Homo sapiens: one gene and its partners. The protein of the gene in region 2 interacts with the protein of the main gene of each other region in a pairwise test. Each region holds a gene or a part of one and is shown on either strand. Other genes may lie near its edges.

The links.
Region 1: the proteins of SHCBP1 (region 2) and FGF13 interact in a two-hybrid assay, tested with the Homo sapiens proteins (one study listed by BioGRID).
Region 3: the proteins of SHCBP1 (region 2) and PRKCB interact in binary tests that used the Homo sapiens proteins (3 or more experiments, as listed by UniProt).

Annotation. Positions count from the first base shown.
Region 1 is NC_000023.11:138,708,647-138,716,367, reverse strand, and holds the start of FGF13 (fibroblast growth factor 13), read left to right. Parts: upstream 1-4,650; 5' UTR 4,651-5,364; coding exon 5,365-5,551; intron 5,552-7,439; coding exon 7,440-7,550; intron 7,551-7,721. UniProt on the Homo sapiens protein: Microtubule-binding protein which directly binds tubulin and is involved in both polymerization and stabilization of microtubules.
Region 2 is NC_000016.10:46,618,359-46,625,651, reverse strand, and holds the start of SHCBP1 (SHC SH2 domain-binding protein 1), read left to right. Parts: upstream 1-4,272; 5' UTR 4,273-4,292; coding exon 4,293-4,395; intron 4,396-7,279; coding exon 7,280-7,293. UniProt on the Homo sapiens protein: May play a role in signaling pathways governing cellular proliferation, cell growth and differentiation. May be a component of a novel signaling pathway downstream of Shc. Acts as a positive regulator of FGF signaling in neural progenitor cells.
Region 3 is NC_000016.10:24,181,937-24,189,041, forward strand, and holds part of PRKCB (protein kinase C beta type), read left to right. Parts: intron 1-3,174; coding exon 3,175-3,255; intron 3,256-3,523; coding exon 3,524-3,631; intron 3,632-7,105. UniProt on the Homo sapiens protein: Calcium-activated, phospholipid- and diacylglycerol (DAG)-dependent serine/threonine-protein kinase involved in various cellular processes such as regulation of the B-cell receptor (BCR) signalosome, oxidative stress-induced apoptosis, androgen receptor-dependent transcription regulation, insulin signaling and endothelial cells proliferation.

The DNA of each region.
Region 1 (7,721 bases), on a different chromosome or scaffold from region 2:
TCTCTGAGCCTTTGTACATAATTAGACCACAAAAGGTGGTACTTGGCTACCTCATCTCGTAAATACTCTCTCTGCTGCCTTACTTAGTGAATGGGGAGATCCCAGTGTTACTCGACGTTGGTGCATTTGAATCTGCCAACATTTCCTTTCTTTGAGCTCATCATCAGTCCTTGACCAGGTAACTTCCCACTCAGATATTTTGGTGAACTGTTAGTGTAGAAGGAGAACAAACTGGCAAGTGATTCTGAGTGAGCTTATCTTCACATAGGAAGGGTGTTTGAAATTTCTCATTTTCAGAATTTCAGAAAGACAGCCAATTCCTTTCTGCTCAGAATGGACTGAGGCTGCTCCCGATTAGGCTGTCTGAGTTCTCTCATTTTTACTCATCACAGTCACATCTGTTTGGGTTTCTGTCTCTCTCCTGGAGATGCCTCTTGAGAGCAGGTCCCCTCAGCTTCCTTACAGCTCCTCTGAGGCCTGCCAAAAGAGATTGGCAGAGAACGATCAGCATTCTATGCCCAGATAACTCACATAACTCTCTCTGAAAAGAATGCTAAAACCTAGTTCTCAAGTGAACCCACGAGGAGTGGAATCAAAGGGACTTTTGCATTTTTTCCTTGGAATCCAATTTAGAATTTATGTTCTCATGGGGTGGGAAGAGAACAGAGAGATGGGAAGTATGAAGAGGGGAAGATAAAGAAGTAGGAACAGGAACATATGGGAAAAATAATCATAGGCTCCCAGAGCCAAAAGGACTTTAAGGAACATGTCATCTGGAGGTTTCCAAACGTTTTGTTTTTAGTACCAGAATCTTTTCATTTTTATTTTTTACGTAAGAAATCATACAATGAGCTCCACTATATAAAACAGATGAAAAGAGAAAGAGAAATAAACAGTTGAATGAAAACAGTTAAAATAGATGAAATCTACTGTTGAAACATTGGCGAGGGAACTTTTATTACTTTTCATTACTTTTAGATTGCTGAAGAATACAAAGTGAAAACTGCCAATCTTGTCTAAGTATTACTTTAAAGATGGGAAAATTGAGGCCTGTAATATGGAGAAATGACATACTCAAGGTCACACAGCCAATTAGTGGCAGAGATAGGATTAAAACATATGTTTCCAGCCTGCCAGGCTAGAACTCTTTGGGAGTTGAGTTAGAAAAAAAAGCTAAGAATGCTTTCTTTCTGAACATGGTCAAAAAGAGAGGTTGGTGGACAATGCAATGGGAGAGCGGACACGTGGGAGAAACAACGGAGAATAGACCCTACCTTAGAATAGAGCATAGAAGAGTTTGAACCACCAGGGATAAGCAGAGATAACTGAAATTTACAAATATGGAGGAGATCCAGGAAGTTCCATAGCAAGGCCACAATGTGAACTGCTAGGAACAAATCAAAACTGGAGAAAAAGGGATTTGGAAATAGGTGTCAAAAGAGAATTCTTTATTACTTCCCCTACACAAATGTCGTACTATTGGCCCAGGATGGCAGTGGGACAGCAAAGACAAGCAAAATATGCTTCTCTAGGATTGGCTGCAATTCTTTCATTATACCTTCTCAAGATGGATGTGACTTTGGCATAGTTTCCTGTTGGAGATTTGAAAGTAATATTCACATTCGTCTCTGAAATTTTAAGCACCTGGGAAATAGACATGAGAGTTAGGAAAACGCGAACATATCTGCTTTGTGTGTGTGTGTGTGCGCGCGCGTGTGTGCGTGTGTGGAGTTTCGCTCTTATCGCCCAGGCTGGAGTGTGGTGGCCTGATCTTGGCTCACTGCAACCTCCGCCTCCCGGGTTCAAGCGATTCTCATGCCTCAGGCTCCCAAGAAGCTGGGACTACAGGCAGGCGCCACCATGCCTGGCTAATTTTGTATTTTTAGTAGAGACAGGGTTTCACCATGTTGGCCAGGCTGGTCTCAAACTCCTGACCTCAGGTGATCTGCTTGCCTCAGCCTCCCAAAATTCTGGGATAACAGGCGTGAGGCACTACGCCTGGCCAATATCTGCATTATTAATGGTTAAGTTCATTGAGCAATATGATTTGGACCCAATTTCAAAATGGTTTTCTTTCACTTTCTGCCCCAGATTGAATTTACCCTCTGGTCACAGGCCTTTGTGAGTTCTCTTTGTGGAAGAGAGAGGAGAATGAATGAGGTCCGTAGACAGACAGATCACAGAGAGATGCCCCCTTCTCAAGTCTCATTAATAATGTGCCATGCATTTTCCTGTTCATGAAAACAAAAGATTCAAGGGGGTCAGGATATAAAAAGACAGAAATATCTTTTGTGGGTTGGCAGGAACATGTGACAGAGGGAGAGTCTCGTTCCCCCTCCCCCATACTCTTCATTTTTCAATATTATACAATTTAATCAGGGAGAGAAGGATTAGAGCAAGAAGGACATCTACAAACACGTGTAGAATCACCTGGTTATCAGCCTTGGCCCAGTGGTTCCATGAGCTTATGTGGATGGTAGACAGGAGTTAGAAACAAAAGGATGTATTTACAGTTTGTGTTTGCAAATTTGTAATAAATGCCCCCGCCATTCTTATTATATATTCCTGAAGTCTTCTCTGAGTCTGTTTACCTCTAATATGTACCACAGAGTGTCCACACCAATAATTCTACAGGCGTCCTGAAAATACCTTATGAATGGTGTTTGCAGAAGCAAACAGTGAGAGCTATCTGAGAGGAGAAGTGGAGGAAAAACGGTGTGGGAAAGCCCTTATGATTTTCTCAATACCATCTCTTCTTCTAAGGTCTATCCCCTTCCTGAATCAGAACTTCATCCTTCTTTAGCTTTTGCATGCCTGCTCTGGGTCAGGATCCCAAGAGAGAAATGAGAGTAGGAACAAAAGGCCCTTGGGGTTGGTGCTTGGCAGAAGGTAAAAACATGCAGAGAATAAGCAGAGACCTTGTACCTGTTCATCACCCACCCCAAATATTTGGGCTTGATCAAAGCTTCTCCTGACCCCTCTTTATGTAAGATATTTCCCTTCATGGTATCTGGAATTTAAACAACAATCACAAACATTTTGAACTAGGAAATAGCCTCCTACTCTTCAGAATCAATATCAATCAGTCATTCCTCAGGGATTTATTTTTCCCTATGAATCAAATTTTAAAGAAGTGGATACTTGAATAGACTTGAGGTGTTAAAACTCTCGTCTACCTTGTCCTCCCTTTTCATTTGGGAAAGCCAAAAGCACAAAAGAGTAGGTAGAAAATGTCAGACCCTTTGGCATCATTCTCCTGTAACTATCAGTCTCAACCCACTGCAACCTTTACCCCAGTCTGCCTTGCAGACACACAGTGGTGCTTCTGATGGAGCAAGAGACATTTCAAGATTGCAGAGAAGTGGAAGGAGGGGTAGCAACAGCTTCCCCTGTGAAGCAATGGAATCTACAGAAGGGTCCGGTGATTCAGCTCTTATGGGCTAAGAAGCCTGAAAGCATTTCAGTGTTGCTGAGTCCGAGCTTGTTTGTTGGGTAGTCAGGCAAGGAAAAAAGGGCTAGAGTCTGAAGATAAGCTGAGCATCTGGTTTTGCATCTACATTAGTTCTGAAAAGAGGTGATGGGGGTGCCATGTAGGAGTCCAGTAAAGACGGTGTAGGGCTGCCAGGTAGTAGAGCTGCTCTATTTTGCTTCCTAGTTGGCCTCAGAAATCAAGTAAAATAGTCAAATAATTGTGTCTGTTTGAAGGTAGGGATGTAGACAGGCCATTTCTCTTTGCTGCATTTCTGGCCTCAAAACCTCTTCTTTCTTTTCCTCCAGAATAAAATATAACACAGGGAGAGGACAGAACTTGTTAATAGACTGAGGCCAGCAAAAAGCCAGACTGGTTCCTGAATTGGAGGGAAGGAGGCTGCCTGACTTTGGAGGAGCAGAAAAAAATAAGTTAGGAGATTAGAGATGGGCCACAGCTTAAATAGAGAGGTTCGACTCTGCATTTCCCAAATACGTAATGCTTACGGTACACGACCCAAGCTCTCTGCTTGAATCCCAAATCTGAGCGGACAGATGAGGGGGCGCAGAGGAAAAACAGGTTTTGGACCCTACAAATTGGCTTGAAATGAAAAGTCAGCAAAAACCACTGGGTGGCAGCGTGGTGTGCGGGCGCAGCTCTGCAGTGTCTGCTTCTGCTGCTACCGCTGGGGCTGAACCCGTCTGGGGACTCTGGCCTCCTCCCCTGAATGGCTACAAGTGTCGCCAAGCAAAATACCTCTGCGCGGGTGGGTGAGGGTTCTCCGGGTTGTTGGTGCGTCCAAGCCTGAGGCAGGGATCTGGCGAACTTCTGAGGGGCTCCAGCCCGAGCACAATCTGGTCAGCTCAAACACTGAGGAAACACCCCCACCACTCCATCCCCCAATGCCGAGCAAACCCCCGCTCCGTCAGCCCAACTACCTCATCTCAGTTCCTCCTCCATCACTGTTTCCTCCCGAAGCTCCTTTCGGGAAAAGGAGGGGAGAAGGATTTGGACGACTGGGGCAGTGCGGAAGCCCCTACAGGTGTTAGCCGGAACGGGCGGCCGGGGACTTGGGGGGGTGGGGGTGGGGGTGGGGGTGGGAGGGGCGGCCTGCGGCTCCGAGCCTACGGGCTCAGCCCCGGGAGGGAGGGGCCGTCGCGGGAGGGGGCTGCAAGGAGGCTGTCGCGCTGTTCCGGAGGGTGCCTGCGGCGGCTGAATTCCTGTGCTGCGACTGTGCCGCGCCCAGAGCAGCAGCAACAGCGAAGATGCGAGGCCATTACCTGTTTGATCCCTGTCGGAAACCTGGCACGGGCCAACTTTTCCCGATTATCACGCCAAGAAGTTGCAAGGACTAGTCGAAGACTCGGAGGGGCCAGGGCGAGGGCGCGCTCCCCCGCGCGCTGCCTCGTCCCTCCTCCGTCCGGCCGCCCGAGCTCCCGGCCTCTCTCCCGCCCGCGCTCACTCCCTCCGCCCGCCTCCCTCCTCTGGCCCCCATCAGAAGGGCAACAGGGCGAGGGGGTCCGGCGAAATTCGGACCGGAGCAGCTGGACATGCACGGTGTCCGCCGGGCGCAGGGGCCGACCACACGCAGTCGCGCAGTTCAGCATCCGCGTGCCAGTCTCGCCCGCGATCCCGGGCCCGGGGCTGTGGCGTCGACTCCGACCCAGGCAGCCAGCAGCCCGCGCGGGAGCCGGACCGCCGCCGGAGGAGCTCGGACGGCATGCTGAGCCCCCTCCTTGGCTGAAGCCCGAGTGCGGAGAAGCCCGGGCAAACGCAGGCTAAGGAGACCAAAGCGGCGAAGTCGCGAGACAGCGGACAAGCAGCGGAGGAGAAGGAGGAGGAGGCGAACCCAGAGAGGGGCAGCAAAAGAAGCGGTGGTGGTGGGCGTCGTGGCCATGGCGGCGGCTATCGCCAGCTCGCTCATCCGTCAGAAGAGGCAAGCCCGCGAGCGCGAGAAATCCAACGCCTGCAAGTGTGTCAGCAGCCCCAGCAAAGGCAAGACCAGCTGCGACAAAAACAAGTTAAATGTCTTTTCCCGGGTCAAACTCTTCGGCTCCAAGAAGAGGCGCAGAAGAAGACCAGGTCGGAAAGGGCTTTTGCTTTCTTTTCCCCATACTTTACGAGTGAGGTGGGGGCGGTGGGGAGCAGGTATGTAGCATAGGTGAGTTTGTTGGTGGCCCATCTTGTGCAGAAGAGGCCACCTAGCCTGTGTGCGTGCGTGGGAAGGCGCTGGCTTTCTTGCCTCCGTAACAGTAACACGCTTGCTGCATTGCAACTGCCCTGGGACAGGCGCAGAGCCTGGGGGCATACTCTGCCCTGGGTGGCTTGCCCTCAGCTTCGGACATGTCACATATGTGCATGCCCGGTGGGCTCTGGGCAGGCGTGACCCAGACATGGCTGTGATATGTATGGCGTGGAAATTGCAGGCGCAGAGCTGGGCAGACACCATCCTCCCGTCCCCAGGAGAGCCTGGGGAATCCCTCTCTTGCTTTTATCTCTGCCTCAGACCCTTCCCCTCCAGCTTCCACCTCCAAGGGATGTGGGCTTCTGCTGTCTAGGCATTGCGTTTCTTTGATGACTTTTAAGCTTTTTGGGACAGACTTGACTTGTGGTGCAGCTTCGAAATGTTTGCTGGGGCGGGGGGAGGGGGGATTTCTAGAACCTTGTTGCAAAGAGCTGAGAGATTTGGTTAGACTTAGTGTAATCGGTTACATGCTACTAAAATGCGGTGTTGAAGAGGGGATTTAAGCTCATACCCAGACTGTGGTGCTTTTGAACATTTTCAGTGGTAGGAGTAGCGCGATATTCCAGCGACTGGAAATTCAGCTCTAGGTGTCAGGTTGCGTCAAGGCAGACCTTCAGGCGAGCATGCAGTTTATTTGCCATTCTTAACCAAATGAATCTTTTACACTCTTTTCTGCCTTTTACTAGATAAATATTACAAAAAAAATAAGAGTCACCGATCTGTTATTTCTCCATTTATGTGTGCTACACCCTGGGATGGAAAAGCAGACATAACGTTTTCTGTTTGCACAAAGTTTTTAATGCATTAACTGTAAATTAGGCTTGTTTCAAAAAGGCTTAAGTGGTTGCAAAGCATGCTTATGTGGCTCGAATAATCACATAAATATTATTTCAGCGCAGGAGTCTATATTCAGTAAAAGAAAATTTTGGATAACATGGCTGTTATTGGTAAATGAGACACTTGATTGATCTATGGTTATTCATAATTGAAAATCATTTTAATTAAGAACTCATATTTTTGATAATCATACTTCTGATATGAAATTTGAAAAATTAGTATGCACTGATTTTTTCCTTCCTACCAACAAAAACCCTGCTCTTTTCACACACATTTTCACTAATGATAATTAATATGACAAGATTTGTTAATGGTGGTTGTATCTCCCTCCTCCCTTTTTTGGTATAAAAGGCTCAATTTTCCAAATACAGTTTCCTTAATGGGGTTCCACGTTATTTATGCATTTTCTACCTTCTTAGAATAAAGGAGATTATTTATTCAAATTGTGGTCATTCTGAAGGAAATCTTTGCTAGTGGGTTTTTGGTCCTTGGTCGGTTGGCAGACAACTCTGAATTATCTTTCTATTTCTCCTTTTCCTTTCACATGAAAAGTAGCACAATTTCAAAAGGCAGAATAGCCATTTGCCAACCCATTACAAATACTCAGTGAGATAGAGTTCCACTCTGTAAACCAAAGGACAGGTTATCAGAAACTATAGACACTTTCAGAAGCTTTACCAATGTTTCCAGATAGAAATAAAATGTTTCTTTAGTTTGAAAATTTATTCTGAAACTCAGAGTTTGTTTTCTTTCTTCCAGACACCTTAAAAGTGTAGTTTGACTTTTTCCATTAAGATTTGTAAATGAAATTAGAAATTGAAATTCCTAGTCTTTTCAACTACATAGGCACAATTTATCAATTGATCCAAATCATTGTTCTCTTTGCAGAGCCTCAGCTTAAGGGTATAGTTACCAAGCTATACAGCCGACAAGGCTACCACTTGCAGCTGCAGGCGGATGGAACCATTGATGGCACCAAAGATGAGGACAGCACTTACAGTAAGTGACTGCAAAATAAATAGTATATGCCAGCATGTTGTTAACATTCTGTTTTTATTTATTTTAAAAATAAATACGCTTTCCTAAATCCTGAATTAAATGCAAAATATATTCACACTACATAATCCTGTTTACACAGGTTAACCTAAAGGAAGTTGAATATGAGTCTGT
Region 2 (7,293 bases):
TCAGTGCCAGCACTCAGAAGTCTGGCAGGTGGGGGAATGAGATGAGAAAGTGGACATTTAAGGTCCAAGTAGAAGCTTGCATCCTTGAGGCTCAGGGATGAGAGGGCACCGCAAGGCACCCAGCCTTACCCCACAAGCAGGAATCCTGCCAGCCGAGCGTGGGTCCCAGTCTAGTTTATGGAATCGAGTCTCCCAGACAAAAAAGGAGAGGCCCTGGCGGTCCTTGGCCTGGCCCATTTTATTCCCTGGACCCTTAACTGCCTCACCCTGAGCTGGGCACCAAGGTTAGAAGGCAAAAGTGGGGTAGGGGGATGTGGGAAGCAGCATTGTCCTCTGGGCATGTGGCTCAGAGGTATCACAGTGACAAAAGAGCCAGGGCTAGGGCTGGAGGGGCCAAGTGATCTTCCTTAGCCAATCCCAGTCCGTCTGTGTCAGCCCAGCTCTGCCTCGCAGCCCCCTCAGCATGGGTGCCCCCAGAAGTAAGCAGCTCTTGGACCCACGAGCAGGGCTGCGTCGGTTTGTGGTCTAGCTCCCAGGGCCAGGCCAGGCATGGCTCAGTGCAGTCCCTGGGCCAGTGAGAGGCCTCCCCCATGCCTCCCTGCCCTCTGCACTAAGCACTTTCCAGGCAGGCCTGGCCATAGGGCAAGAGCAGGCCTTACAGCAGTGCCACGGTGACCCAAGAGGCAGGGTTGGGGCCTGGACAGGGCTTCCTCTGCTGAGACTGAGACAAGCAGGGCTTGATGCTGGTGGTGGAGCCAGCATCTCACCTGCCAGGCTTCCTTTTGGGCAGGGAGGCTACCTGTGGAATGGCTGAGCCTGGTTCTGCAGGGGAGGAAGGCTGCCAGGAGCTGAGGGGCTGGCACCTGCATTGAGGGGAGTCTGGGTGCATCAGATTGGGGGGCACCAGAGGCGAGGCTGCCTGGCTCCCTTTCTCAGCAGCTTTGCTTGTGGCAGGGGTGAGAGTGGAGCTGAGTGGGGTCTGGGCTCTGCCCCTGCGCCTCCACTGCAGTGCCTGGGCTCCCCTTGCAGGGCAGACAGTGCCTGGCACTGAGGGGTGCCCCCAGACCCCGCTGGGACTGGATGTGCCGTGGGCAGTGCCTTCCTCCAGCCTCACAACCTTTCTGCTGGGGCTGAAGTTTCTGGGGTCACATGGTCAGAAGGGGCTGAGCTGGTCTTTCACTGCAGGCCCACTCTGAAAGAGAAATCCCATGAAGCCTGTCCTTGCAGAGCCCCTCTGTTTTTGGGGGAACAGGGAGCATTCACAGGGTCTTGGGAACAAAGGCCTGGGCCTCCCCGTTTGAATTTCAGCCCCAGTTCCAGGGCAAGTCCCAGCCACCCAAGCATACTTACCAGTACTGCCCACCACCACCCACTGCCCACCTCTAAGAAGCCCGGCTCTCCTACTCTGCTTCCAGGCTGGGGCCTCACAGGTGGGGCTGTTACCTTCCTCAGGGCTTAGGGAGGGAGGGAGGACATGGACAGGGCCTTCCACCCTGGCTCCTTCACAGGGATGGTAGCTGACCGGTGATGGGTTCATTTGTCACCTTGGACTGTGAGCCACTTCCACTTCTCGCCCCCCAGGCAGGAGCACCCTCACTCCAAGGGCTTGGCCTGGAAAGGCAGGCTCACCTGGGACTCAACGTTCCTTCCCCCGCCGCCACTGTGCCCCCCCGTCCCTCCACCCCAGAAGCCCTGACCTCATTTGGGCACCTTGCTGTCCTCTGGGCTTCTCCTCTGCCCAGGTCACCCTGTGGCAGGCCTGGGCCCTCAGGATGTTTCAAAGGCTCCACAGCTCCACCGCTCCACCTGGCTTCACTCCAGCACCCTGTCCCTGGAGCACCTCTGTCCTGTCTGGGCCAACCTGGTCTCCCTGCCCCATGCCCTCCCCTGGCTCTTAGCAACCTGCCCTTTTATTCATGCCATTTGGGGTCACAGATGCCTAGCTGGACACAGCTCCCAGAACTGGCTCCACCCTGGGGCCTTGCCCCTAGTACCCCCTGGCAGGAGCAACCCACCCCATGGTCGAGGTTCCCCTACCCCTGGATCCTGGACTGAAGCCATTTCCTACAGAGAAGCGTTCCCACCCCCTCTCAGGCACAAAAGCCGGTGTCCAGGGACTCAAGACCTGTACCTGGGGTTGCAGGGGCTCCTGCCCTGCTGTATCCCACCAGGAGGGGGCCCCACTGCCCTTCCGGCCCTTAAAACTGGGCTGGGAGAGAAGATGGGGAAGTGTGTGAGACAAAACAAAGCCGGCTTGTTTCCTCCCCTTGGCAGGCTAAGCTCTCCCGGCAGCCCGGGCTCTGGGGCGGAAGGAGAACAGTGTCATCTCTTCCTTTGTTGATAAATTGCCAAAGAGTGGGAGCAGGTGGGGTCAGGGGCCAGAGTGCAGGGGAGGGGGCAATGGTGGAGGTGGCGGGGGGAAGCAGAGGGAGGTGGGCTGAGGCCTCGGTGGGGCCAGTGCGACGCTGGCTTAAGGAGCTGGAGGGGTTCCTAATACACATTTAATTCAGTTTCTCTTCCCTAAGAGGCTGCCGGAGTTGGGGCCTCCTCCAGCAGAGACCCTCGGACCCCTGCAGGGCCTGGACTTGGGGTGAACAGGGCTTCAGTCAGCGCAAGTATTCCATTTGCATTTGGTAATTTTTCATGCCACCTATTTATGAATATACAAATCTTTATACCAAATCTATTTTTTAAAACATGGAAAAGTTGCCTTTATGGAAACTTGGCAGAGCCAGAGTGTACACATTCCTAAACCATTAAACAGATTTCTATAACAAAAAAAAAAAAAAAATTTTGTAGAGATGGGGTTTCACCATGTTGCCTAGGCTGGTCTCAAACTCTTGGACTCAAGTGATCCGCCTGCCTCGGTCTCCTAAAGTGGTGGGATTACAGGCATGAGCCACTATGCCTAGCCTGGTTTGAGTAATATCTTGATGGTTGATGAAATATTTGATAATTGGATGAGAAGAGAACTGTGTTGTCTCCAGTGATGCTGCAAATGGGTGAGGAGAAATGCTGCCATTTGTGAGGTTTGTGGGCGGCAAGGTTGAAGAAGAGAATAATGAAAAAGCTAGCGTCATCCTCAAGGCCTGTTGATAGTCTTGATTATTGTTTTCTGTGTTTTTACCTCATGGTGCTCAATATGTATTTGTTCAGTGAGCAAATAAATGTAAGGTCAGATTCTGCAAACAAAAGTCAAAGAAATCTTACTTCCTGGAAAAGTTAGCCCAATTAAGTGCAGCTTTCCAGTCACCCCTCCTGGCTCCATTTTATTTCAGCTGTAAGGGATCCGAGAGACTTTAGCCCAAGGTGTTTCTTCAAAGCAATAAGTGGAAATGTTTCCCCACATTAAGACTGCACAGACGAACTGTCATGACCAGGCTCTTGGTCCCCTGTGGACGCATCCCACTTGGTGTCCTGGTTACCTGGGCTATCTTGGGCTGACCTCATCATTCTAGTAGTGATGGCCTGGCAGAGACATTAAAAGGCTTCTTCATGGAGTCTGGCTGGTTTCACATCCTGGCTTTGCTGGGTTAGATTGGAGAAGTGACTTAACTTCTTAGTGACTCCATTTGCTCATTTGTAAAATGGGTATAGTAATAGCTCCCGTCTCATAGGATCATTGTGAAGATTAAACAGAACAATCCAGGTAACGCATGCAGGAGGGTATCTTGCACACAATATGCAGTAAATGTTAGCCATTATGATGGAGATTATAGTTGTCTTTGATTAATGCAAATTAACAAATTTACTTACTAAATTTAATTTGACATTCTTTGAAAATATGCTCTCTCTCTCTCTCTCTCTCTCTGTGTGTGTGTGTGTGTGTGTGTGTGTATTGAAAGACAGAGAGAGACTGGTGTTTGGTGGTGAAAGTTTTGGGCCCACGTAGGCCAGCATCCTTTTCAGTTGAAGTTGTGCTTGTGGGAGGTGAAATGACTTGCCCAAGGCAATACCACTAGGAATAGCCCAGGTAAGTTTAAATACTATGTTTTTTGACTCTCAACCCAGTGACTTTTCCACTATATCTCATTTCCAGGCATTGCTGGTTCGTTTTTTTCGAAAATCATTCCAAATTATATTCCAATTCGACTTTCTTCAAGTTCATCCCAGAAAAGCAAAGGCCGGGCACTTGAACAAGAACAGCTGTCAGCCTGGGGCGAGGGGGCAGTGTTGGTGGGGGCTGGAGCGGGGCCGGACTCTAATTGGTCCACGGCCTCGGCCCGACTATCAAATCAGCAGAGCCTGCGTCATCACGTCGTTGCCTGGGCTGCCGTCCGCGGAAATTTGAAATGGCTGACGGGTCGCTGACGGGCGGCGGTCTGGAGGCAGCGGCCATGGCGCCGGAGCGCATGGGCTGGGCGGTGGAGCAGGAGCTGGCGTCTCTGGAGAAAGGTGAGCTCTCCATGCCGGGGCCGAGGAGCCGCCTCTGAGCGGAGGCCTGGGGCGTCGGGACCCTAGGAGGGCGCCTGGGTCGCGGGCCTTCCGGACCCGTCTGTCCAGGGTGGCGGGAACGGCGGTGCGCGGCCGGGACCCAGTGACGGGACCTCAAAGTCGGGCGGTACCCAGGGGTGGGGGACTCCCTCTCTTCCCTATCCGCATCTCCCACTCTCCCTGCACTCTCTGGCCTCCGCCCGCCCCGAGGTTGGAGGGAGCTGGATTGGGCCAGGAATTCCCTATCTGGATGGGTTTTGCGGGAACTGTGCATTTACTGTTGCTCAAGGGGCCATTTTTTCATCTGCATCTCAAAGGAGATCACGAACCACACTTCCCTTTTCCGAAGAAGAGAAAAGCTTGAACCCTTGGCTTAGATGGCTGTCCTGTGCACGGAGGGTAGTGACGTGTCCAAAGTGAGGAGCGCCAACTTGGGCCGGAGTCCAGAAATAGAACCGGGGTCTTCTAGTTCTCTGCCCTTTCTTCCTCCTCATAGAGTTTCATTACTATTTTTTTTTTCTGATATTTTAAGCTGGTTCATGTTTTTACGTTAACACTTTCGGTTGTATTGTGTAGCAGAGAGTCCCAACAAAGTGAGAAAACATAAGTGTGACAATTCCACTATTAACCCACCTATCCAACTGGCAAAAGTCACTTGGCTTCAGTTTTCCCATCTGGAAGACTATGCCAATGGTTGTACTTGTGGTGAAGTTGAAGTGAAATAAAGTTTTTAAAGTGGCTGCAAAAATAAATACTGCATGGCATCGCTTATATTGGGAATCTAAAAAAGAGGAAGTTTCAGAAAGAGAGTAGAGTGGTAGTTGCCAGTGGGTTGGGGGAATGGGGAGATGCTGGGCAAAGGGTCCAAAGTTTCAGTTATGCAGTGTGAATAGTTCTGGGGATCTGATGTACATACAGCATGGTGACTATAGTTAATAATACTGTATTATTATTACAGTATTAATAGGCAATGACGTGATGGTGCAATGCGACACAAATTTTGTACTTGAAATTTGCTAACAGAGTAGATCATAAGTGTTCACACCACACACACACAAAAGGTAACTATGCGAGGTGATGGAAATATTAATTCACTTTACTGTGGTAATCATTTCATAATGTATAGGTATATCAAAACATCATGTTACACACTTTATTTTTTATTTTATTTTATTTTTTTTGAGGCAGAGTCTCACTCTGTTGCCCAGGCTGGAGTGCAGTGGCACACAATGTCAGCTCACTGCAACCTCTGCCTCCCGGGTTCAAATGATTCTCCTGCCTCAGCCTCCCAAGTAGCTGGGATTATAGGCGCCCGCCACCACACCCAGCTAATTTTTGTATTTTTAGTAGAGACGGGGTTTCACCCTGTTGGCCAGGCTGGTGTCGAGCTCCTAACCTCAGGTGATCCGCCCATCTCGGCCTCCCAAAGTGCTGAGATTACAGGTGTGAGCCACCGTGCCTGGCCATCAGGTTATACACTTTAAATGTATATAACTTCTATATGTTAATTATACCTCCATAAAGCTATAAAGAATGGTGCTGGAAAAAAAAAGAATGGTGCTGAAGTACTACTATTTCTTTAACAAACATATACATTATGTAATAGGCACTGTTGTAAATTATTAACAATTAATCTTCTTAATTGAAGTGGATGTACTATTATCTTCCCTTTATAGGTGAGGAAGCTGAGGCATTGTCACATAACCAGTAAGGTACTGATGCCTTCTAAGGTTCATGTGCATCAGTGTTTGTGAGCAGTAGACCCTTGAGTACACTTTGGTCATCTGTGGGTCAAGTACTTCTGGTGGCCTGAACAGGGACAAAGAAATGGAAGGAAGGGGGAAAGGGAAGGAGAAAATCAAGGGGGAGGGAGAAAAAAGGTATCTGCTAACAGCTCAGATACCTTCCCTGAAACCACTTCTGGAGACTACTCTACATTCTAAATGCTACCCTTTTTAGCATTGCTTATTTAGTAGTTGTTTCATTTATTAAAAACATTACATAGAATTAGATATGCCACTGGCTGAATCATACCTTATGAAACATTATATACAGCCCAAACCTAATGTGATTTGCATTTTCTGATCTTTTCCTTAGACACAGTCATTGAAATTAGTGAGGAGGAATCTAATAACCTTACTGAAGTAAACCTTATGGATTATTAAGACTCTCGTCCCTGTTTATTGAGGGGCGATTGACAGACTGATATTGTAGGAAATAAAGGGAGGGCTTAACCCATCTGAGAGGAAGTCAGCTCCCTTTCTTAAAGGAGCTTTATGGAATTGCTTTGGAAAATAAATAACTAAGATACTTGATTATTATCACTGGCTAACTGTAGTATAAATCACAGGCTGTATGCTTTGTAGGAGATCTTGAGTGATTTCCACTGAATTAAAAATCAACTGTCTTCCAGCTGGATGTGGTGGTGCATGTCTGTAGTCCTAGTTACTCAGGAGGCTGAGACAGGAGGGTAGCTTGAGTCCAGGAGTTTGAGGTTGCGGTGAGCTATGATCGCACCACTGCACTCCAGCCTAGGTGACAGAGTGAGACCGTTTCTAAAACAAAAACAAAAACAGCCTTCTACTTCTCCCCAAAACCTCACAGAACAACAACAAAAATCTAACTGTGAAAGATCTTAAGCGCTTATTGTTTTGAAGTAGAATTTGGATTTTGAAATATTTTTAAGTTTGGAAAACTAGTTTCTTCTCACAATGGTAGAGGTAAGTAGACTATTCATATTCAAATTCTTGTTTGTATTTTGTTTGGGATTTCTATGCAAGGATATGAAAATAGAAGCATTCAAATAAGGCACTGGAGCTTGCTTATTTTTGCTTTTTTTTTTTAGGTTTGTTCCAAGAT
Region 3 (7,105 bases), about 22 Mb from region 2:
AAGGGAATTGTAAAGAGAAATTTAGCTATTTCTGTATACTGCTGACATTTTTTACAAGGTAAATGTATTTGGGTATTACTTGAGTAATAAAGTAATTCTTTAAAAATAATAAGGCTTTACTCGGACCCAGTGAAGTTTTCCCTATGTGATATGCTTTGGTCTATTATCATTTTGTTAATTAATTAGATAGGACACAATCCATAACACAACTTCCTGATAGGCCAGGGGTTCCATAATCTCTGGTTCTCAACTCTAACTGCAGTTTAGAGTCGTGAGGGAGCTTTTACAATGTAGGATGCAGCTGGGGCATGGTGGCTCACTCCTGTAATCTCAGCACTTTGGGAGCCTGAGGCAAGAAGATCGCTTGAGGGTAGAAGTTTGAGACCAGACTGGACAACATAGTGAGACCCTAATCTCTACAAAAAAAATTAAAAATTCGCCAGGTGCACTAGGTCACCCCTGCTGTCCTGACTACTCAGGAGGCTAAGGTGGGAGGATCACTTGAGCCCAGCAGGTAGAGGCTGCAGTAAGCAGTGATCATGCCACTGCACCCCACCCTGGGCGACTGAGCGAGACTCTGTCTCAAAAAAAGAAAGAAAGAAAGAAAGAAAGTGTTTCCACACTTTTAAAGTACTTCAAGTCTTATTTGATCCTCATGACAAGCCAACAAGTTAATCCTTTTACAAAGGAAACTAGAGCCTGGGATGTGACAGCAGTTGCCGAAGGTGATGTGGTTAGCTCATGACAAAGCCTGACCTGCTGCTTATCCCTCCCATCTGTGGGCTGGAGGGGAGGCAACTTCACCAGCCACACAGTTGAGGGTTTCTTGTGCTTGCCTGAATCACGACCAGCGAGGAACTTCTGAGAACCACAGATCCTGGGCCTCCACCTGCAGAGATTCTAATGGGATGATGCTTGGGCATCCCACATTGTTTCTTGTGTGTGTGTGTGTGTGTGTGTGTGTGTTTGAGACAGGGTCTCACTCTGTCTACTCACTGCAAGCTCTGCCTCCTGGATTCATGCCATTCTCCTGCCTCAGCCTCCCGAGTAGCTGGGACTACAGGTGCCCATCACCACGCCCAGCTAATTTTTTTTGTATTTTTTTAGTAGAGACGGGGTTTCACCGTGTTAGCCAGGATGGTCGCGATCTCCTGACCTCGTGATCCGCCCGCCTCGGCCTCCCAAAGTGGAAAACACGTTCAATGAGAAGTGTTCTCCTGGAATGCTTTCCCTTCCTTGTCTTGAGGGTTACTTCTCAGAATGCATTTCATTCATTCATAATTGACCAGTAAAATTGTATACATTTATCATGTGCAACATGTTGTTCTGAAATATGCATACATTGTGGAATGGCTAAGTTGAGTTAATTAACATATTTATTGTCTCACATACTTATTTTTTTATGGTAAAAACACTTAAAAATCCCTCTTAGCAATTTTCAAGAATACAATAGATTGTTATTAACTATGGTTACTGTGTTACACGATAAGTCTCTTGAATTTATTCCTGCTACTTAACTGAAATTTTGTATCCTGTAATCAACATCTCTGCATTTCTGATTTTGGAATAGAAATCAAAGTGGGAGATAGAGATCAAGAAACAAACATTCACTTTATAGCCAAGTTTGCTCAAATACCCTTTTTGAGTTAAACAAGCAATAACTGAATTATAAAACATTCTAGGATTAGTTAACATTTTGAGGGCATAATATGTGAAAGCCACCGAGTATCTCATTCATCCTCACATAACTTCATGATATAGAGATTATAGAAGTTAAGTAACTTCTCCTGTGGTCAGACAGCCAACCGGTAGACAGCAGTCAGGATTCAAAGTCAGACTGCCTAACCCTCAGACCTCAGCCTTTAGCCTTTGCTGTATTACCTCTTAACCTCTGACATGGTTAGTTTTACATCCCTGCATACTGAAAGATGGACAATCACATAGCTCTTCTAGACTTTTCCATGTTCTTGCAGTTTGGGAATATGAATTAAAAACTTCACAACCATATATACCATATGATACACCAATTCTACATCTAGGAGTTTATCTTAAGGAAATACTTGGACAGATGTCCAAATGTCTAATTACAAGAATATATGTTACAGCATTGGAAGAAACCTAATCAACTGGAAATTTATAAGATAGATTTTGGTATATCCATTCAACGGAATGCTATGCACAGATAAAAATTGATTATGTTCATATACAAATATTAAATTAGCAAGGAAAACTTAAGTGAATAACTGGCTTTATTAAAGATCTATTGCCCATAATCCCAGTGCTTTGGGAGGCCAAGATGGGAGCTTTGCTTGAGTTTGAGATCAGTCTGGGCAATATAGAGAGACCCCATCCCTACAAAAAATTAAATAATTAGCATGGTGGTGAGCACCTGTAGTCCCAACTACACAGGAGGCTGAGGTGCGAGGATTGCTTGAGCCCAGGAGGCCAAGGCTGTGAGCTGTGAGCTATGATCTCACCACTGCACTCCAGCCTGGGTGACAAAAAGAGACACTATCTCAAAAAAAAAAGAAAAGAAAAAAAGAAAAAAAATCGTCCAAATACTAAAGTGTTTATGTAAAGCACACACATACACACAGAGTTTAATATGTATTCAGAGAAAAGAGTATGGAATGAAGTAGACCAAATATTAGTCATAATTTTTCTCTTAATAAAGGATTATGGGTGATTTTCATGTTATTATCTCAGCTGAGCTATCTTTTATAAAGAAATATTAAAATAGTGACAAATGTTGTTATCTCTTAAACGTTTTTATGTTTAATTATGTTTTAAAAACATGTAACGTAAAATTTACTATTTTAACCAGTTCTAAGTATACAATTTAGTAGTGTTAAGTATATTTACATTATTGTGTAAATGTTGTAACTTTTACAGAGGAGTAAAGACAGTTTTTCCTTTTAAAAATTCCATGCTCACTGTTTTGAAAATAATAATAACAATACACCTTACTTAGTGCTTCGAAAAGGCAATGTGACAGCCACAGGTGTTTGCCCAGCTGCAGGTGCCTCTGCAAAGCATGTCTGTCATTCCCTGAATAGCTAATATAAAGAAACAGTTCAGGTGGGCACTGGCCTTCTTGTAAAAGAAGAGTGAAATCTGTCTCCAGAAGAAACATGAACTGCAAACCTCCCTGATAGGGTGCCTTCTCTTTTCTAGATAATTGCTTATCAGCCCTATGGGAAGTCCGTGGATTGGTGGGCATTTGGAGTCCTGCTGTATGAAATGTTGGCTGGGCAGGTAATTGAATTTTAAGTGATCGATAAGAGAAGTCCTCCCTACCCCCATCCACATGGTTTCTTTAGGAGAATGCATGTTTGGTAACAGCTCATAAATTGGAACCTCTATGACTTTCCCGGCCTTGGGGTCATACAAGTCTGTGGTCATTTGAAAGCCTGGGTGTGTGGCTTCACTGTGGGCCCCAGGGAGGAGGGTCTGCCAGTTGAGGGGAGCTAGGGGGAGGGTTCAAGCAGGGATTCTTCTCCTCCCACCCTCCCCTGTCATACAGGCACCCTTTGAAGGGGAGGATGAAGATGAACTCTTCCAATCCATCATGGAACACAACGTAGCCTATCCCAAGTCTATGTCCAAGGAAGCTGTGGCCATCTGCAAAGGGGTAAGTGCATCTCTTAAAGCTGTGACCAGGACCACCACATAAAGGCATGTGGGCTGTACCTTGCCCAAGAACACCCCACCAGGGGGGAACACAGCCTGAACTCCACCCTTCACTCCATTTGCCAATATGAGAACCCTGATGTGGAGCTGCTACCTCCCGGAGGAGAGAGAGCTTTTTTTCTGATTTGCACAGAAGTGCTGTAGAGAGCTGCCTGCAGCTGCGTCTTGCTGCTGGCTGGGCTGCAGTCTCTGAACCAGCACAGGGGAATGCTTATTGAATGAATGAGGTAGAAAGCACAGAGATTTTGTCAAAGAGCTGGAAGTCATGGGAAAGGGCACAAGAGGTCTTTTGCACAACTCAGGCTATCTTGCCCTGCTCTGCTGTATGTGTTTAGTTAATACTAAGAGCGTGCAACTTTTGTTCTAAAAAATACCACGCCGTGTTGAGGTTAAGGAATTCTCTAGATAAGCAGACTGAAATTCAATGTACTCAAAATCCCACTGTCTCCTCTCCCCAGACACACACACAAATGGCTAAAAGGGCATGCACGCTTGGACATCTACGGTTTATGCACAGGGCACCTGTGAAGAAAGCAGGATGTGTGTTTATGGGGAAGGATTGTTTGTTTTGCATCTTGTGTTGGACCAGGGCATACTCACAGTGACTTCTGTGAGATCCTAAAGATCAGCGACCCTCACCTTTGGAGCCATCAGAATAACCCGAAGTGCCTTACCAGAATGCACATGCTTCTGCCTTACCCCAGAGATTAAGTCTGGGTATGAGTATTTTGGAAAAGTCTCCATTTGGCTTGCAGACCACTGCCTTTAAAAATACTGTCCAAATGAAGTGATTTTTCAACTCTGATGGAAGCCTGAAAGCAATAGAATTAGACGCCCAGAAAATATGTTCTACACATAATATACTAATAAAGGATTTGCTCTCCCTCCACCCAGTGGTACAGGTTAGAACATGGCCGTGCCTTAATCAGTGGGTTCCCACCTGTGTGTCTGAATAAACCAGGGCTGCCAGTCCTAGATCTGTGGGATGCTTGCAGACTTTTCATGCCCTACTTTGTTCTTCCTGACCCCAGCCAGATGCTGGATGCACTGTCTTGGGTGAAGGAAAGCTGGGAAACTCAGGCAGGCCAATCTGAGGCTTGGCCCAGTTTGGAATAGCTGGGCCAGCCTCTCAGCCTAAAAGCGCCTTGTCACACTGCCTAAATTCCCACTCTCAATGAATCACCTAAGGTTTGCACCTCAGCTGCATAGGCTAAGATGCATGTATCCCTGGGGAAACCACCTGTGAATTAGTCTCAATCCCGAACATCTAAAGTGAATTGCTTGAAAATATTTTCTTTGAGGGTGTGAGGCAGGGAGAAAGAAAGTGAAGAATAGAGAGGGGAGTCCCAGAGGTGCATTAGGAACCCAAGCAAAGCCCATAAAGAAAAAAAAGGCACACACGAAGGCCTCCACAGGCCCCCGTAGACAAGTTATTGAAGGGTGGGGGCGGGTAGAGAGAAGGTGGTACCTGGAGCTTTTAGTTTGTTTAATAATTACCAGCATATAAGGATCCAGAGATTTCTCAAAAACATTCAGCTTTCAGGTTTCTCTTGAAAAATCAGATCTTGCCACATTGGCCTGTCATTCTTACAAAGCACCAGTCAGCTGGATTGGAAACCATGGCCCTCTGTAGTTGGAGCTTGCCCTCTGTAATTCTCAGACGTTCTCATTTGGCCAATTCTCTCCAAGTTCAAATCCTGGTTCAGGCATTAATTGCCGCAGGACCTTGGGGAAGTTGTTTGACGGCATCTGCAGATTGGGGATAATAATAGCACTCCACATTGGGTTCTTTGATGACTAAACAGCTGAATACTGTAAATCACTTAGAATAGAGGCTGGCACTCTGCTCCAAGCCCCTTGGAAGTTATTATTACTATTACTAGTGCTGACGCTATTGTGTTATCTGCCAGGTTCCTCTTGGCATTTGAGTTTGCATCCCCTGGAATTGCAACTTTTAAAGTAGGGGATTTTGGAGATCAAGGGACCCTTTGCAAATCTTGACCCTTCTACTTTCTAGGCACAAGGTGTTTTTGTTTTGTTTTGTTTTGTTTTGTTTTGTTTTGTTTTGTTTTATCAATGTCTCGCTCTGTCGCCCAGGCTAGAGTGCCGTGGAGTGATCATGGCTCACTGCAGCCTTGATCTCCCAGGCTCAAGGGATCCTCCTGCCTCTGCCTCCCAAAGTGCTGGGATTACAGGCATGGGCCACTGCACCCAGCCTAGGTGCAAGATCTTAAGCCACTTCCTTTGCATCTCTGGGCTTCTGTTTATTTTAAAAAATGGAATAGTAGTACTCATTGAAAAGAGTTTTTGAGAGCATTAAATGAGATAACATAAGAGAAAGCTCCTTGCATGATGTGGGCACATAGTAGGTGTTTAATACATCCACAGGGTCCTCCCCTTCACACGCCCGCCCTGCCTGGACAGCTGGGGGTTCTAAATGGGTCATGGAGGAAAGAGCATTTTCCAGGTCAGCTGCCTTCAGCTCCTGCTCCAATTAGCAGTTTCCCTGGTAGAGCCGTTTTCTATTAATTCAGGACCCATAACCTTCATGATTAACTGGGGTGACTCTCTTACTATTGAGTTTGGGGACCATTATTAATTGAGTGGGCTGAGTCCAATGGGGCTCTTCCTTCAAGGAGGGTACTCCAAAAACGAGTGATGCTCAAGCAAACAGCCAAATGCTTCCTCTGGAACAGCGAGCCCCAGGGGATACGTCTGGGAGGTGATCAGAGATTGGAACAGTGATTAAATCCAGCTGTCTACATGGCTTCGGGCACATTAGAGCAGAGTGCGGGAACTGGGCAGAGACTCCGAATTAATGCTGGATGTTTTTGCAGTACCTTTTCTTTGCTTGGCATCCTCCTGCTTAGACAGAAATTCAGTTGAGCTTTTGAAAACAGTCACCTGTTTAATTGAAGCAGTGTCCTTTATATGTCCATTCCCTTAAAGGCCCGATTTTCTACTAAAAAAAAAAAATTAGTAAAACCTTACTCAGATGGCTATTCCCACTTTGAACAAACTTGAAGCAAACAGAAGCCCAAATAGACAGGACCTTAGGGTGAAAACCAGCAGACACTGAACAGCTGAGACTGAACATAAAGCTATAAGAGTCCTGAGCCAGGCAGAGCTGTTCAAAGCCTTGCCCTGCTCCTTAGCTGTTTGACCTTAGGCAGATGACTTTACTTCTCTGCACCCACATCCTTTACCTGGAAAATGGGGGATAATAGTTGCTGAGGCCTTAGAGTATTGTTGCAAAGTTTAAAGAGTAATGGGTAATGGCCGGGAAGCCTTTAGCACGGAGCCTGAACGCATATGATGTTGTCATACTCAGTACACGGAAGCCGTTATTGATGTTATTATCAGTGTGAACCAAAACCTCACTGCCCTTTCTTTCCTCCCATCCTAATCTTACACA